Linked DNA regions of Homo sapiens. The protein of the gene in region 2 interacts with the protein of the main gene of each other region in a biochemical or structural test. Each region holds a gene or a part of one and is shown on either strand. Other genes may lie near its edges.

Evidence for each region. The genes of interacting proteins can lie anywhere in the genome.
Region 1: of the proteins of MAPK1 (region 2) and MAP3K1, one has a biochemical effect on the other in vitro, tested with the Homo sapiens proteins (3 studies listed by BioGRID).
Region 3: of the proteins of MAPK1 (region 2) and DUSP3, one has a biochemical effect on the other in vitro, tested with the Homo sapiens proteins (2 studies listed by BioGRID and IntAct).
Region 4: the proteins of MAPK1 (region 2) and TNFRSF1A form a complex in vitro, tested with the Homo sapiens proteins (2 studies listed by BioGRID, with this or other methods).

Annotation. Positions count from the first base shown.
Region 1 is NC_000005.10:56,881,367-56,885,132, forward strand, and holds part of MAP3K1 (mitogen-activated protein kinase kinase kinase 1), read left to right. Parts: intron 1-203; coding exon 204-1,500; intron 1,501-2,160; coding exon 2,161-2,313; intron 2,314-3,297; coding exon 3,298-3,460; intron 3,461-3,766. UniProt on the Homo sapiens protein: Component of a protein kinase signal transduction cascade. Activates the ERK and JNK kinase pathways by phosphorylation of MAP2K1 and MAP2K4. May phosphorylate the MAPK8/JNK1 kinase.
Region 2 is NC_000022.11:21,787,500-21,791,265, reverse strand, and holds part of MAPK1 (mitogen-activated protein kinase 1), read left to right. Parts: intron 1-2,457; coding exon 2,458-2,572; intron 2,573-2,877; coding exon 2,878-3,009; intron 3,010-3,766. UniProt on the Homo sapiens protein: Serine/threonine kinase which acts as an essential component of the MAP kinase signal transduction pathway. MAPK1/ERK2 and MAPK3/ERK1 are the 2 MAPKs which play an important role in the MAPK/ERK cascade.
Region 3 is NC_000017.11:43,768,894-43,772,659, reverse strand, and holds part of DUSP3 (dual specificity protein phosphatase 3), read left to right. Parts: intron 1-2,845; coding exon 2,846-3,051; 3' UTR 3,052-3,766. UniProt on the Homo sapiens protein: Shows activity both for tyrosine-protein phosphate and serine-protein phosphate, but displays a strong preference toward phosphotyrosines. Specifically dephosphorylates and inactivates ERK1 and ERK2.
Region 4 is NC_000012.12:6,328,187-6,332,258, reverse strand, and holds the end of TNFRSF1A (tumor necrosis factor receptor superfamily member 1A isoform 1 precursor), read left to right. Parts: intron 1-265; exon of another isoform or gene 266-291; coding exon of another isoform or gene 292-383; intron 384-1,332; coding exon 1,333-1,406; intron 1,407-1,547; coding exon 1,548-1,661; intron 1,662-1,963; coding exon 1,964-1,992; intron 1,993-2,192; coding exon 2,193-2,481; intron 2,482-2,636; coding exon 2,637-2,947; 3' UTR 2,948-3,488; downstream 3,489-4,072.

The sequences.
Region 1 (3,766 bases), on a different chromosome or scaffold from region 2:
AGCATGAATAGGTTGCTGATACCTTAATATTTGATTGACATATGAAAACCCAAAGTCTGGGCTCTTTAATTAAAAATTCATAGATACTTTATGCTGAAATGGTTTTTGAAGTATACATGCTGTAAATTACTACCATTTTTTAAGTTTCCATGTATTTTTCAGTAATTGGAACTTATATGGTAATGAATGTTTTTTTCTTTCAGGTATAAGAAGCTGCTGTCCCTCTTAACCTTTGCTTTGCAGTCCATTGATAATTCCCACTCAATGGTTGGCAAACTTTCCAGAAGGATCTACTTGAGTTCTGCAAGAATGGTTACTACAGTACCCCATGTGTTTTCAAAACTGTTAGAAATGCTGAGTGTTTCCAGTTCCACTCACTTCACCAGGATGCGTCGCCGTTTGATGGCTATTGCAGATGAGGTGGAAATTGCCGAAGCCATCCAGTTGGGCGTAGAAGACACTTTGGATGGTCAACAGGACAGCTTCTTGCAGGCATCTGTTCCCAACAACTATCTGGAAACCACAGAGAACAGTTCCCCTGAGTGCACAGTCCATTTAGAGAAAACTGGAAAAGGATTATGTGCTACAAAATTGAGTGCCAGTTCAGAGGACATTTCTGAGAGACTGGCCAGCATTTCAGTAGGACCTTCTAGTTCAACAACAACAACAACAACAACAACAGAGCAACCAAAGCCAATGGTTCAAACAAAAGGCAGACCCCACAGTCAGTGTTTGAACTCCTCTCCTTTATCTCATCATTCCCAATTAATGTTTCCAGCCTTGTCAACCCCTTCTTCTTCTACCCCATCTGTACCAGCTGGCACTGCAACAGATGTCTCTAAGCATAGACTTCAGGGATTCATTCCCTGCAGAATACCTTCTGCATCTCCTCAAACACAGCGCAAGTTTTCTCTACAATTCCACAGAAACTGTCCTGAAAACAAAGACTCAGATAAACTTTCCCCAGTCTTTACTCAGTCAAGACCCTTGCCCTCCAGTAACATACACAGGCCAAAGCCATCTAGACCTACCCCAGGTAATACAAGTAAACAGGGAGATCCCTCAAAAAATAGCATGACACTTGATCTGAACAGTAGTTCCAAATGTGATGACAGCTTTGGCTGTAGCAGCAATAGTAGTAATGCTGTTATACCCAGTGACGAGACAGTGTTCACCCCAGTAGAGGAGAAATGCAGATTAGATGTCAATACAGAGCTCAACTCCAGTATTGAGGACCTTCTTGAAGCATCTATGCCTTCAAGTGATACAACAGTAACTTTTAAGTCAGAAGTTGCTGTCCTGTCTCCTGAAAAGGCTGAAAATGATGATACCTACAAAGATGATGTGAATCATAATCAAAAGTGCAAAGAGAAGATGGAAGCTGAAGAAGAAGAAGCTTTAGCAATTGCCATGGCAATGTCAGCGTCTCAGGATGCCCTCCCCATAGTTCCTCAGCTGCAGGTTGAAAATGGAGAAGATATCATCATTATTCAACAGGATGTAAGTATAGATTCTTTAAGAGGTTAGAAAACTTCCTTGGGGCTGGGCACAGTGACTCATACCTGGAATTCCAGCACTTGGGGAGGCTGAGGCCGAAGGATTGCTTGAGCACAGGAGTTCGAAACTAGCCTGGTCAACAAAGCAAGACCCTGTCTCTACAAAAAATTTTAAAAATTAGCCAGGCATGATAGTGTACACCTGGGGTCCCAGCTACTCAGGAAGCTGAGGTGGGGAGGGTCACTTGAACCTGGGAGTTTGAGGCTACAGTGAGCTGTGATTACACCATTGTACTCTAGCCTGAATGACAGAGCAAGACACTGTCTCACAGAGAGCTTCCTTGGACCATACTAAAATAAACCTAATTCAGAAATGCTGCTTCTAACATTCAGAAGCAGAGTTTTCCACATAAAATTATTACTTATACAACAATAATGTTTGTACTGTTTAAACAGCAATAATTCTTGCCTATGGGCATTTCCGGTTAATTGTATAATGGTGATTACTTTTGCATTTGCTGTCGGTCACAAATACCTTCCATTCAGAGGTCACATTTATAGGTGGTTTGGGAAGCCAGACTGAATAAGAATAATATCTTGCAGACTAATTTCACAAAATCTTACTCCTTTAACAGTAAAAAGATTGCTTTCGTTTAATATGTAGACACCAGAGACTCTACCAGGACATACCAAAGCAAAACAACCGTATAGAGAAGACACTGAATGGCTGAAAGGTCAACAGATAGGCCTTGGAGCATTTTCTTCTTGTTATCAGGCTCAAGATGTGGGAACTGGAACTTTAATGGCTGTTAAACAGGTAAATATCTAGTGAGCATATAAATGAAATGACTCAAATCACAAAATGAAGCATGTTCAGTAAAAAGAATAAAGGATATGTCCACGTGTGTGTACTTTAGTTCTTTAAACTTTGAGAAACTTAGTTTCAAAGTAGATGTTTCTAAAGCACCAGAAACATCATGAATTCTGTTATTGTTAAAAGTTGAGGCCACGCGTGGTGGCTCACACCTGTAATCCCAGCACTTTGGGAGGCCAAGGTGGTTGGATCATTTGAGGCCAGGAGTTCAAGACCAGCCTGGCCAGCATGGTGAAACCCTACCTCTACTAAAAATACAAAAATCGGCCGGGCAGGGTGGTAGGCACCTGTAGTCCCAGCTACTCAGGAGGCTGAGACAGAAGAATTGCTTGAACTCAGGAGGTAGAGGTTGCAGTGAGCCGAGATCGCACCACTGTACTCCAGCCTGAGCAACAGAGCAAGACTGTCTCAAAAAAAAATAAATAAAAGTTGAAGTATGATTATTGTAAGACTACAATATCAAGATGGGCCTTACAAAGGTTTTTTTGGTTTTGCTTTTTGTAGGTAGTAGAGGTGGTTTTCAGGTACTTCTTTCAACAGTGTACTTGTGCGGTGCCATCTTGGGGTTTCAGTGGTTTACTTTTTATTATAACGAGCATACTTAATCAGGATAGGAAAATTATTAAACTTTCATTTTTAAATCATGTTGATTCTTCTCCCATATTTGGGCTTTTCTCATCTTTACTCTGAGACTATTGGAATATTGACTATATCCCAATATTTTTGTCATTTTTCTGATGTTTACTGCTGCTTAAGCTAGATTCTTAGTGTTTAAAAGAGTTTGACTTGGGTTTGTTTAAAGTACATTGCATCCATAAGCATAAATGCCATCTGTTGCTAATAAAGTGCTAGTTTGCATTTGTTCATTTTAGATCAGATTGCTAGTGAAAATATGCAAAACTTTGTGAACGTGTTTATTTGAAACAGGTGACTTATGTCAGAAACACATCTTCTGAGCAAGAAGAAGTAGTAGAAGCACTAAGAGAAGAGATAAGAATGATGAGCCATCTGAATCATCCAAACATCATTAGGATGTTGGGAGCCACGTGTGAGAAGAGCAATTACAATCTCTTCATTGAATGGATGGCAGGTATGTTAATGTTTTAAATTACAAAATAGTAGTACGTGGATTTAACTTTCTGCAATTTAGGAAAAACCAGTTTAATTAAAATTTATTTCTATCAAATAGTTTGGGTTTCTAAAAACAAATCACCCCAATATATTAGTATGAACCACAAATACTTCGTTTTGTATTTCATTTACTATAAATGAAATATTGACTACCTCTACCTTTTAAATTTTTCCAGTGTGTTTTTAAATGATTGTGTAGCATTGTTGTTTTTAATACTTGATATGTATAAGATATGTATATTTCCAGGTAGCCATGATAAATTGG
Region 2 (3,766 bases):
AATTTAGCTGGACATAGTGGCAGGCACCTGTGATCCCAGCTACTCAGGAGGCTGAGGCAGGAGAATCGCTTGAACCCAGGAGGTGGAGGTTGCATGAGCTGAGATCGTGCCATTGCACTCCAGCCTGGGTGACAAAGCAAGACTCCGTCTCAAAAAAAAAGGACGGGTTCTCATTCTGTCACCCAGGCTGGGGTACCGTGGCACCATCTCGGCTCACTGCAACCTCCGCCTCCTGGGCTCAAGGCCATCCTCCCACCTTAGCCTCCCAAGTATCTGAGACTACAGGCACGTGCTACTGCTCATGGCTGATTTACTTATTTATTTTTGTGCTTTTCATAGAGACAGGTTGTTGTGTTTCTTTAGTCTCCTTTAAGAGTGCAGATGAGCTATTTTGTAGAATGCCCCTCAGTTTTGGGTCATGCATTTTTAACATGAATACCAGAAAAGCACTTCATTGTATTAGAAGGCACTTCTGGAGCCAGGTATGGTGCCTCATGCCGTAATCCCAGCTCTTTGGGAGGCTGAGGCAGGAGGATCATTTGAGCCCAGGAGTTTGAAACCAGCCTGGGCAAATAGTGGGACCCCTTCTCTACAAAAAATTTAAAAATCAACCAGGTGTGGTGGTGTATGCCTGTGGCCCACCTACTGTGTGCCAGCTACTCAGTAGTGCCAGCTACTCAGGACCTGGCTGAGGTGAGAGGATCACCTGAGACAAGGAAGTTGAATTTGCAGTGAGGCATGATTACACCATTGCACTTCAGCCTGAGTGACAGAGTGATGACACCATCTCTTAATTTTAAAAGAGTCAGCTTATATTCCTTGGAGAAACATCTTTTTTGCACCATTGTTATGATTCAGACAGAATCCTTCCATGATTTTTTTTTTTTTTTTTTAATTTTTAGAGAAAGGGTCTCACTCTGTCACCCAGGCTGGAATGCATTGGCTCGGTCACAGCTCACTGCAGCCTCCAATCCCTGGGCTTAAGTGATCCTCCCACCTCAGCCTCCCGAGTAGCTGGGACTGCAGGTGTGAGCCACCATGTGTGGCAAAATAATAATAATAATGATAATAATAATAATAATTAGTTAATACCCAGTGTTGTTGAGGACATGAGGAAATGCATTTTCTTTCACATGCTGCTATTAGGAGTGTAACAGTGCAACTGCAGTCATAGTTCACTGCAGCCTCAAACTCCTGGCCTCAAGCAGTACTCCCACCTCAGCCTCCCAAAGTATCCTCCCATGACTTCTAACAGGATTCCTTTAAAAGAAAACATATTCCTGAAAAATGAATAGGAAAAGAAGATGAGAATTCTTTTATTTTATTTTATTTGTTATGTTATGTTATATGTTATGTTATGTTTTATGTTATGTTTATGTTATGTTATGTTATGTTATGTTATGTTATGTTATGTTATGTTATATGTTATGTTATGTTATTTTTGGAGATGGAGTCTCCCTGTGTTGCCCAGGCTGGAGTGCAGTGGTGCAATCTCGGCTCACTGCAACCTCTGCCTCCTAGGTTCAAGCAATTCTCCTGCCTCTGCCTCCCAAGTAGCTGGAACTATGGGTGCCCACCACCACGCCCGGCTAATTTTTGTAGTTTTAGTAGAGACAGGGTTTCACTATGTTGGCCAGGCTGATCTTGAACTTCTGACATCAGGTGATTCGCCCGTCTCGGCATCCCAAAGTGCTGGGATTACAGACGTGAGCCACCATGCCCAGCTGAGAATATTTTAGAAGAGATTGGTAAAATATGATGGAGCTAGCACACACTCCCCCAAACCCAGAAAAGGTTTTTAGACCTTTTTTCTTTTTCCAGCTCCAATTTATGACAATTCTAAATCTGTCTCTCAAATTGTTTCAAAAAAGGACGGATGTATACTTTGGAAATTCTAATTTAATAAGTTAATCAACTTTGTGGGTTTGTTGTTGTTTTGAGACAGAGTCTCGCTCTGTCACCCAGGCTGGAGTGCAGTGGCACGATCTTGGCTCACTGCAACCTCTGCCTCCTGGGTTCAAGCAATTCTCCTGCCTCAGCCTCCCACGTAGCTGGGATTACGGGCACCCACTACCATGCCCGGCTAATTTTTTTGTATTTTTAGTAGAGATGGGGTTTCACCATGTTGGCCAGGCTAGTCTCAAACTCCTGGCCTCAAGTGATCCGCCCGCCTCGGCCTCCCAAAGTGCTGGGATTACAGGCATTAGCCACTGTGCCCAGCCCAAGTTAATCAACTATGAAGAGAAAAATAAAATCACATAATCTTGGTTGTTCAGCCTCTCATAAGAAAGCCAAATTGTTTTTTGCTTTTCCATGTTGTTTACTTGTATTTCTGAATTGTAGAGTCAAAGGAGAAGTTCAGAGTCCCATCAGCAATGCACCTGTCATACAGGAAGATCTCATCATGTCCTGTAACACCAGATACCATTTTCAGTCTTTTCTCTCTTTCTCCTGCAGGGCTACACCAAGTCCATTGATATTTGGTCTGTAGGCTGCATTCTGGCAGAAATGCTTTCTAACAGGCCCATCTTTCCAGGGAAGCATTATCTTGACCAGCTGAACCACATTTTGGGTAAGGTTCCCGAGCCCTTCAGGAGCTAGATTTACTCAAGTTTGTACAGCTTACATCAAAGTCACTTCATTAAATTAAGAAGAGTTCTAATATACTCTTTAACCTGTGGTAGGTGTGAATTTTTAACCTTCTCTGATTTAAAATGTTAAGGACTTTTGTGTAAAAACATAAGAAAGGTAAACATCAGGAGTGGTGATAAGCAACGGCTCATATCAATTATCAGGGTTCATTCCGACTCAGAGTTGATGGTGTGTAGTCATTTACCTTGGTCCTGATAACTAATAGCTAATTTTTTTATCTGATAGGTATTCTTGGATCCCCATCACAAGAAGACCTGAATTGTATAATAAATTTAAAAGCTAGGAACTATTTGCTTTCTCTTCCACACAAAAATAAGGTGCCATGGAACAGGCTGTTCCCAAATGCTGACTCCAAAGGTAAATGTTATTTCGTTGATTAGTTTTTTCTTAGGCTTAGCTTCGCGTTTATTTGTTAAATTGTTAGGTCACTAGCCTGAAAAATGAGCCTATGGCTATTGGATAATGCTTTCTTTAGTGCTCACTCTGAATTGTTGTCTTCCCCCTTTTTTTTTTTGGAAACAGTGGCAGTGCAGTAAGGGAACCTGGTAATGACGGTCTAGTTCTCCACCTTTTGGTTTCTTTGCTAATTTTAATTTGCATTAAGGTCACTTTTTTTTTGTTTTTGTTTGAGACAGTGTCTCACTCTGTCGCCCAGGCTGGAGTGTAGTGGCCCGATCTCGGCTCACTGCAACCTCCTCCTCCCGGGTTCAAGCGATTCTTCTGCCTCAGCCTCCCAAGTAACTGGGACTACAGACGCGTACCACCACGCCTGGCTCATTTTTGTATTTTTAGTAGAGACAGGGTTTCACCATGCTGGCCAGGCTGGTCTCGAACTCCTGACCTTTTGATCTGCCCACCTTGGCCTCCCAAAACTGGGATTACAGGCGTGAGCCACAGCGTTCAGCCTAAGGTCACATTTTTAGGTCTCAGGAAGTCTAGGACCCTGCAAACAAATTACACCTTTTCATCTTGTCACTTGATAATTTTTAAAATCAGGTTTATTGAAGAATAATTTACACAGAATAAAATTCACACTTTTTAGTTGTGTGGGCCTCTGAGTTTTAACAAACATAAACTGTCATGTAACAACCACCGCAATTGAGATGTGGAATAT
Region 3 (3,766 bases), on a different chromosome or scaffold from region 2:
ATGGGCTCTAATGCCAAGTATAAATGCTTCTAAGAATGAGTGGCGAAGTGAGTCAACAGAAACATGCTGGCCTCCAACAGTGTGTGGGGCCCAGGGACCCATCACTGAGAGCTGGGTGGGATGGCTGAGGGTACTCAAGAGGGAGCAGTCACTTCTAGCTGGGAAAACAGCTTCATGGAGGAGGTGGCATCTGGGCTGAGCCTAGAGGAATGGGAGGTTGAACTGGCCCCTTTCCCAGTAGGCTCTGTGTGCACTGGGCATGCAGAGTATGTTCTAGATGGTAAGGTGGCTGCTCTGCAGAGGGTCTCATTCCTAGGGTGGGGCAGGGGAAGCCCCACTCTGAATATTTCGGGCATACAGGCCGGAGGGTGAATGGGCAAGAAAGTGGAGGACTCCTGCTTCCTGATTTGGAAGGCATTGGGAAAATAGAGTGGTGTTTTGGGGGTAGGGTGATAGGAGCAGAAGAGACTCTGTTGGACTCTGGGCTAGCAGATTCCTTGCCAAACAATGGCCTTATAGAGGTGTTAGTAGGTAATAATTCACTCAGCTAGTCAGCAAATATTTATTGAGCACATAGTGTATGCTAGAGATTGTAACGCATCCAAAAATCAATGCCCCACATTTCTTGCCTTTTTTTTTTTTTTTTTTTGAGACGGAGTCTCGCTCTTGTCACCCAGGCTGGAGTACAGTGGCTCAATCTCAGCTCACTGCACCCTCCACCTCCCAGGTTCAAGTGATTCTCCTGCCTCAGCTTTCTGAGTAGCTGGGATTACAGGCATGTGCCACCATGCCCAGCTAATTTTTTGTATTTTTAGTAGAAACGGGGTTTCGCCATGTTGGCCAGGATGGTCTCGAACTCCTGACTTCAGGGGATCCGCCCACCTCGACCTCCCAAAGTGTTGGGATTATAGGTGTGAGCCACCGTGTCCGGCCATTTCTTGCTCTTAAAGAATTCGTCCTCTGGGAGAGAAAAGTCAATCTGCGCATGTCTGGCAATGACACAGGACCAGGGCTGCTGTAGTTGAGGGTGTACTAGGTGCTACCAGAGGATGCCCAGTATTGGGTAACATTTATTGAGTGCACATGGATGCCAGGTGCTAACCTAGAGGATTCATGTGTCCTCTCCTTTAATCTAACCACCTTGTGCAATGGGTACTATTGGCCAGATAAGAAAACTGAGGCACCTTGAGGTTAGGTGGATCATGAGTTAATAACCAGTGTATTGGTCAGGATTCTCTAGAAAAAACAGAACCAATAGAATATACAGTCGGTCCTCCATATCCGTGGGTTCCACATCTGTGGATTCAACTAACCTCAGTCTGAAAAATATTAAAAACAACATAAAAAGATGTTATGTCTGTACTGAACATGTACAGATTTTTTTTCTTGTCATTATTCTCTAGATGATATAATCTAATAAATGTTTACATTGTCTTGGGTATCATAAGTCATCTGGAGATGATTTAAAGTATAGGGGAGGATGTGCTGTGCAGAGGTTATTTGCATATATGATGTCATTTTATAATCAGGGACTTGAGCATCTGTGGATTTGGGTATCGGCAGGAGGTCCTGGAGCCAATCTGCCCTGTGGATATTGAGAGATGGTGTCTATTTATATATATATATATACACACACATACACACACACACACACACACACACACACACATATATATACACGCACACACACACTATATTAAAATAACCCCACCTCTACTAAAAGATACAAAAAAATTAGCTGGGCATGGTGGCATGCGCCTGTAGTCCCAGCTACTCAGGAGGCTGAGGCAGGAGAATTGCTTGAACCCGGGAGGCGGAGGCTGAAGTGAGCCGAGATCGCGCCACTGCACTCCAGCCTGGGCAACAAGAAGGAAACTCCATCTCAAAAAAAAAGAAACAAAACACTACCAGCACCCTGGAAAGCACCCCCAGTCTCTATGCTCCACCACCCCCATCCCCAGCTCCCAGGGCCTCTGCCACGCGGGCTTCTTTTTTTTTTTGAGACAGAGTCTCGCTCTGTCACCCAGGCTGGAGCACAATCTCAGCACAATCTCACCTCACCGCAACCTCTGCCTCCTGGGTTCAAGCAATTCTCTGGCCTCAGCCTCCTGAGTAGCTGGGATTATAGGCTCGCGCCACCACACCCAGCTATTTTTTTGTATCTTTAGTAAAGACGGGATTTCACTATGTTGGCCAGTCTGGTCTCGAACTCCTGACCTTGTGATCCAGTTGCCTTGGCCTCCCAAAGTGCTGGGATTACAGGCGTGAGCCACTGTGCCCAGCCCCTTGCAGGCTTCTGACAGCACAGATGGTTTTGCCCGCTTTCCTACTCTGTGGGCTCATCCACCTCATATGTGTGTGCTGCCTCCGTGTTGCTTCTGCTAAGTGGCAGTCTGGTCATTCTTTGTATTTGTCCTTTCTACTGTGGATGGGCCTTTGGGGGTTTCTAACTGTGGGCCATGATGTGCAGTGTTGCCTGTGAACATTCTGGCCCATGTTCGTGAATGTGAATGCGTATCTCTATTGGACCTGGGCCTGGGAGTGGGATTGCTGGGCCAGAGGGGATGCACGTGTTCAGCTTGAGGAGATACCGCCGTGCCGCACAGCTTTCCAAAGTGGTTGTGCCAATTCACGCCTCACCTCCCCCAGCCACGCAGAAGAGTTCCAGTTGCCCCATATCTTCACCAGCACTTTGGGTTTTCCATCCTTTTCATTTTAGCCATTCTGACAGGCACACAGTGGCGTGACATTGTGCTTTTAAGTGGCACTTCACGGAAGAGTCTTGACCAACGCCATGGTGTGATGGGACGCCCCCAGCTCACCACGTCTCCCCTGTTTCTTACAGGCCGGGTGCTCGTCCACTGCCGGGAAGGTTATAGCCGCTCCCCAACGCTAGTTATCGCCTACCTCATGATGCGGCAGAAGATGGACGTCAAGTCTGCCCTGAGCATCGTGAGGCAGAACCGTGAGATCGGCCCCAACGATGGCTTCCTGGCCCAGCTCTGCCAGCTCAATGACAGACTAGCCAAGGAGGGGAAGTTGAAACCCTAGGGCACCCCCACCACCTCTGCTCGAGAGGTCCGTGGGGGAGGCCGTGGGCAAAGGTGTCCCGAGCTGCCATGTTTAGGAAACACACTGTACCCTGCTCCCAGCATCACAAGGCACTTGTCTACAAGTGTGTCCCAACACAGTCCTGGGCCACTTTCCCCACCCTGGGGAGCACATAAAGAAGCTTGCCAAGGGGGGCGTCCTTGCTCCCCAGTTGTCCTGTTTCTGTAACTTATGATGTCTTTTCCCTGAGATGGGGGCTCAGAGGGGGAAGGCCTGTGGCCTGCATGCTTCCCGATGGCCCACGGCAGGAGGTGTGTGGAAGTGTAAGGCCTAAGATGCTCACAGAGGTCCCTCATGACCTCCCTTCCCCAACTCCCGAATCCTCTCTTGAGTGTGGACCTCAACACCTTGAGCCCTAGTAAAGGAACTATGCAAATGCAGGCCACTCTCCCCACCACGTCTGTGCCCTGCACTGTCCCCACAGCCTTCCACACCCTGTGCATAGGCAGCCCTCTCACGTCTTGAGGTCCGAAGCTGGGGTGGGGGTGTCCGTCAGTTATTAGTGGATGGAGATTCCCACAGCAAGGCTGCATTTGAATGATTTCCTTAGGATGAATGGTCCCTACACAAAGAGGCCTTGTGGGCAAACCTGGAGAACCCTCCTAAATCCATAGAGTTTTCAAAATGTGAATCTTTGGAAGCCTTGAGTTCAGAA
Region 4 (4,072 bases), on a different chromosome or scaffold from region 2:
TATATTGCCCAGGCTGGCCTCGGACTCCTGGGCTCAAGCGATCTTCCGCCTCAGCCTCCCAAAGTGCTAGGATTACGGGCATGAGCCACCACGCCTGGCCTGGGCCTTAGATTTCTTATATTTAAAGTAAGCATAATGACATTCATTTGGTGAATTTGTGAGAACCAAAAACAAAGAAACAAACAAAACCTACAACACGTCTGACACAAAACTATTTATTTTCCATTAATCTTCTTTTTTTTTTTTTTTTTTTTTTTTGACACAGAGTCCTGCTCTGTCGCCCAGGCTGGAATGCAGTGGCGCGATCTCGGCTCACTGCAACCTCTGCCTCCCAGATTCAAGCAATTCTCCTGCTTCAGCCTCCCAAGTAGCTGGGATTACAGGCACGTGCCACCATGCCTGGCTAATTTTTGTATTTTTAGTAGAGATGGGGTTTCACCATCTTGGTCAGGCTGGTCTCAAACTCCTGGTGATCCACCTGCCTCTGCCTCCCAAAGTGCTGGGATTACAGCCGTGAGCCACTGCACCCAGCCGGCTTCATCTCTTCTTGAAATCACTTTTATACCATTCTATGTGGTTCTCACCATGAGCTTGAGTGGTGGGCTAAAGTGCCTCTCCCTGCTTTCAGCTTCCTGCTGGGAACTCACTCTCTCAAGTTCCTTCCAGCACCACCCCATAGAGTTCCCATCACTCCACACTGTCCAGTGACAACTCCCAACATGGAAGATCTGCTAGTTCTACAGGGTGCTCTCTGGCTGCCCCAGTAACATGTGTTTTTAAATTTTTCACATGCATGTTTGACCCCGACTCCCCGAAGTCAGGTACTGTAACTAGCAGTGTCATTTAAGAAAAAGCCCTTTAACCTCTCTTTGCCAAAGGATTCTTATCAGCAAAACAGTGATGAAACAACAATCCCATAACAGCTAGCTGGCTACCTTCTCAAGCACTTATTAAATGAGGCATAATGATTTTGCTTAATCCTCAATCCTGAGAGGTGGGCGATCCCTGTGGTGATGAGGAAACCGAGGCTTGGGGGTTAATGGCTTGCCTAGATTCACACTGCTAGCCAAGGAATGAACTGGAATTTACACCCTGACCCTGACTGCTTTTCACATTTTCTACACAGCCTTTTCAAGATCCCTGCCAATTCTAAAATTAAATGATTCTATGATTAACTGTGTTTCATTCTTCTGCATCAGTTCCCAAAACAAATTATATCAAGAGACAGCAAAAATATTTGTAAAGAAAGGATGTCCAACAATCTGTGTGGTTGTTTTTCTGTGTTCCTCCAATGGTAGGGCCTCTGTTCACCAGTGCCGTCTCTTCTTTTAGCTGTAAGAAAAGCCTGGAGTGCACGAAGTTGTGCCTACCCCAGATTGAGAATGTTAAGGGCACTGAGGACTCAGGTGAGGAGAAGTGACCTGGTGCCCATGCTCACCTGCCCTCTCCCTCTTCTTGCCCCCACCCGTCCATCCATCCCACCCATCCATCTATCCCTGCGGCCCCCCTCTGCCCGCTCCTCTGACCAACACCTGCTTTGTCTGCAGGCACCACAGTGCTGTTGCCCCTGGTCATTTTCTTTGGTCTTTGCCTTTTATCCCTCCTCTTCATTGGTTTAATGTATCGCTACCAACGGTGGAAGTCCAAGCTCTACTCCATTGGTGAGTGGGGGCTTTGGGAGGGAGAGGGAGCTGGTGGGGGTGAGGGAGGACATGGGTGGGTGCGATGGACATGTGTGGAGGGAGGTGAGGAGTGTCCCCTCAGTTCATACCGCTGGGGACTCTGGGCAGAAGGTGGCCCTGGATGGCTGGGGAGATGTCGAGCTGCATCAGTAGCTCTCTCGTCCCTGGGGCCACATAGGCCCTGAGGCATGTCACCACAAGTCCCCACTGCCAGCTGAGTCCAGGGTGCCAGGGCTGAGAGAGGAAGTGAAATTTATGATGCTTTCTTTCTTTTTCCTCAGTTTGTGGGAAATCGACACCTGAAAAAGAGGTGAGATGAAATGAGAGAGTTACTCCCAAATGTCCCTGACCATTCCTTATAATTGCCTAATGCTCAGATCCCCTGGAATCATCCTTCACTTTCCGGGGGCTCGCCTCATTCCCTCTAAGTCCCAACCCCCACGTAGAATAAAGAGGGCCGGGGCTGGTTTTCGCTGCCGCACTAATGCTGCGCCACCTTCTCTCTTTCAGGGGGAGCTTGAAGGAACTACTACTAAGCCCCTGGCCCCAAACCCAAGCTTCAGTCCCACTCCAGGCTTCACCCCCACCCTGGGCTTCAGTCCCGTGCCCAGTTCCACCTTCACCTCCAGCTCCACCTATACCCCCGGTGACTGTCCCAACTTTGCGGCTCCCCGCAGAGAGGTGGCACCACCCTATCAGGGGGCTGACCCCATCCTTGCGACAGCCCTCGCCTCCGACCCCATCCCCAACCCCCTTCAGAAGTGGGAGGACAGCGCCCACAAGCCACAGAGCCTAGACAGTGAGTTTCTCCCGCGGCTGGAGACGAGGAGGCTGGGGGAGGGCCGGGGGAGCGCGGGAGGCGCTCCCAGAGGGGACCACGAGAGGCGGAGGGCGCGGGATGCGGGGCGGGGCCTGGGGTTGCCGCCCGAGGCTCACCGGCCCGCGTCCCCGCAGCTGATGACCCCGCGACGCTGTACGCCGTGGTGGAGAACGTGCCCCCGTTGCGCTGGAAGGAATTCGTGCGGCGCCTAGGGCTGAGCGACCACGAGATCGATCGGCTGGAGCTGCAGAACGGGCGCTGCCTGCGCGAGGCGCAATACAGCATGCTGGCGACCTGGAGGCGGCGCACGCCGCGGCGCGAGGCCACGCTGGAGCTGCTGGGACGCGTGCTCCGCGACATGGACCTGCTGGGCTGCCTGGAGGACATCGAGGAGGCGCTTTGCGGCCCCGCCGCCCTCCCGCCCGCGCCCAGTCTTCTCAGATGAGGCTGCGCCCCTGCGGGCAGCTCTAAGGACCGTCCTGCGAGATCGCCTTCCAACCCCACTTTTTTCTGGAAAGGAGGGGTCCTGCAGGGGCAAGCAGGAGCTAGCAGCCGCCTACTTGGTGCTAACCCCTCGATGTACATAGCTTTTCTCAGCTGCCTGCGCGCCGCCGACAGTCAGCGCTGTGCGCGCGGAGAGAGGTGCGCCGTGGGCTCAAGAGCCTGAGTGGGTGGTTTGCGAGGATGAGGGACGCTATGCCTCATGCCCGTTTTGGGTGTCCTCACCAGCAAGGCTGCTCGGGGGCCCCTGGTTCGTCCCTGAGCCTTTTTCACAGTGCATAAGCAGTTTTTTTTGTTTTTGTTTTGTTTTGTTTTGTTTTTAAATCAATCATGTTACACTAATAGAAACTTGGCACTCCTGTGCCCTCTGCCTGGACAAGCACATAGCAAGCTGAACTGTCCTAAGGCAGGGGCGAGCACGGAACAATGGGGCCTTCAGCTGGAGCTGTGGACTTTTGTACATACACTAAAATTCTGAAGTTAAAGCTCTGCTCTTGGAGACAGTGGTCTGTCGGGATGGGAGGTGGGGGCAGAGGCCCAGATCCTGAGGGGTGAGATGGGAAAAGCCCTGCACTAGGGCCAGGTAGCCCATCACCATCACGCCAAGTGACAGAGGAGTAGCAGGTTCTTGTTCTGAACACCGTCATCTGTTGCCCAAGCTGGAGTGCGCTCACTGCAGCCTCCAACCCTTGGGCTCATGGGGTCCTCCCGCCTCAGCCTCCGGACACAGGCACACCACCACACCTGGGTAATTTTTAAAATTTTTTTTTGTAAAGACAGGGTTTCCCTATATTGCCCAGGCTGGTCTGGAACTCCTGGGCTCAAGGGATCCTCCCACCTCAGCCTCCCAAAGTGCTGGGATTACAGGCAGCCATGCCCAGCCAGGGCAGTCATTTTTATGCACAACTTTCTGTGGGGCTCAGGTGCACCTATGATACATAAATTTACAGTTCTTGATCCCCAAACAGAGCAGGAGGCAGGGTGCCTGGGCCAGGCTTCCTTTGGGAAATGTGGTCCTTGAGGTAGAGTCACAGATGCCGGAGGGTGACCAGCACTACTGGGGAGAGAT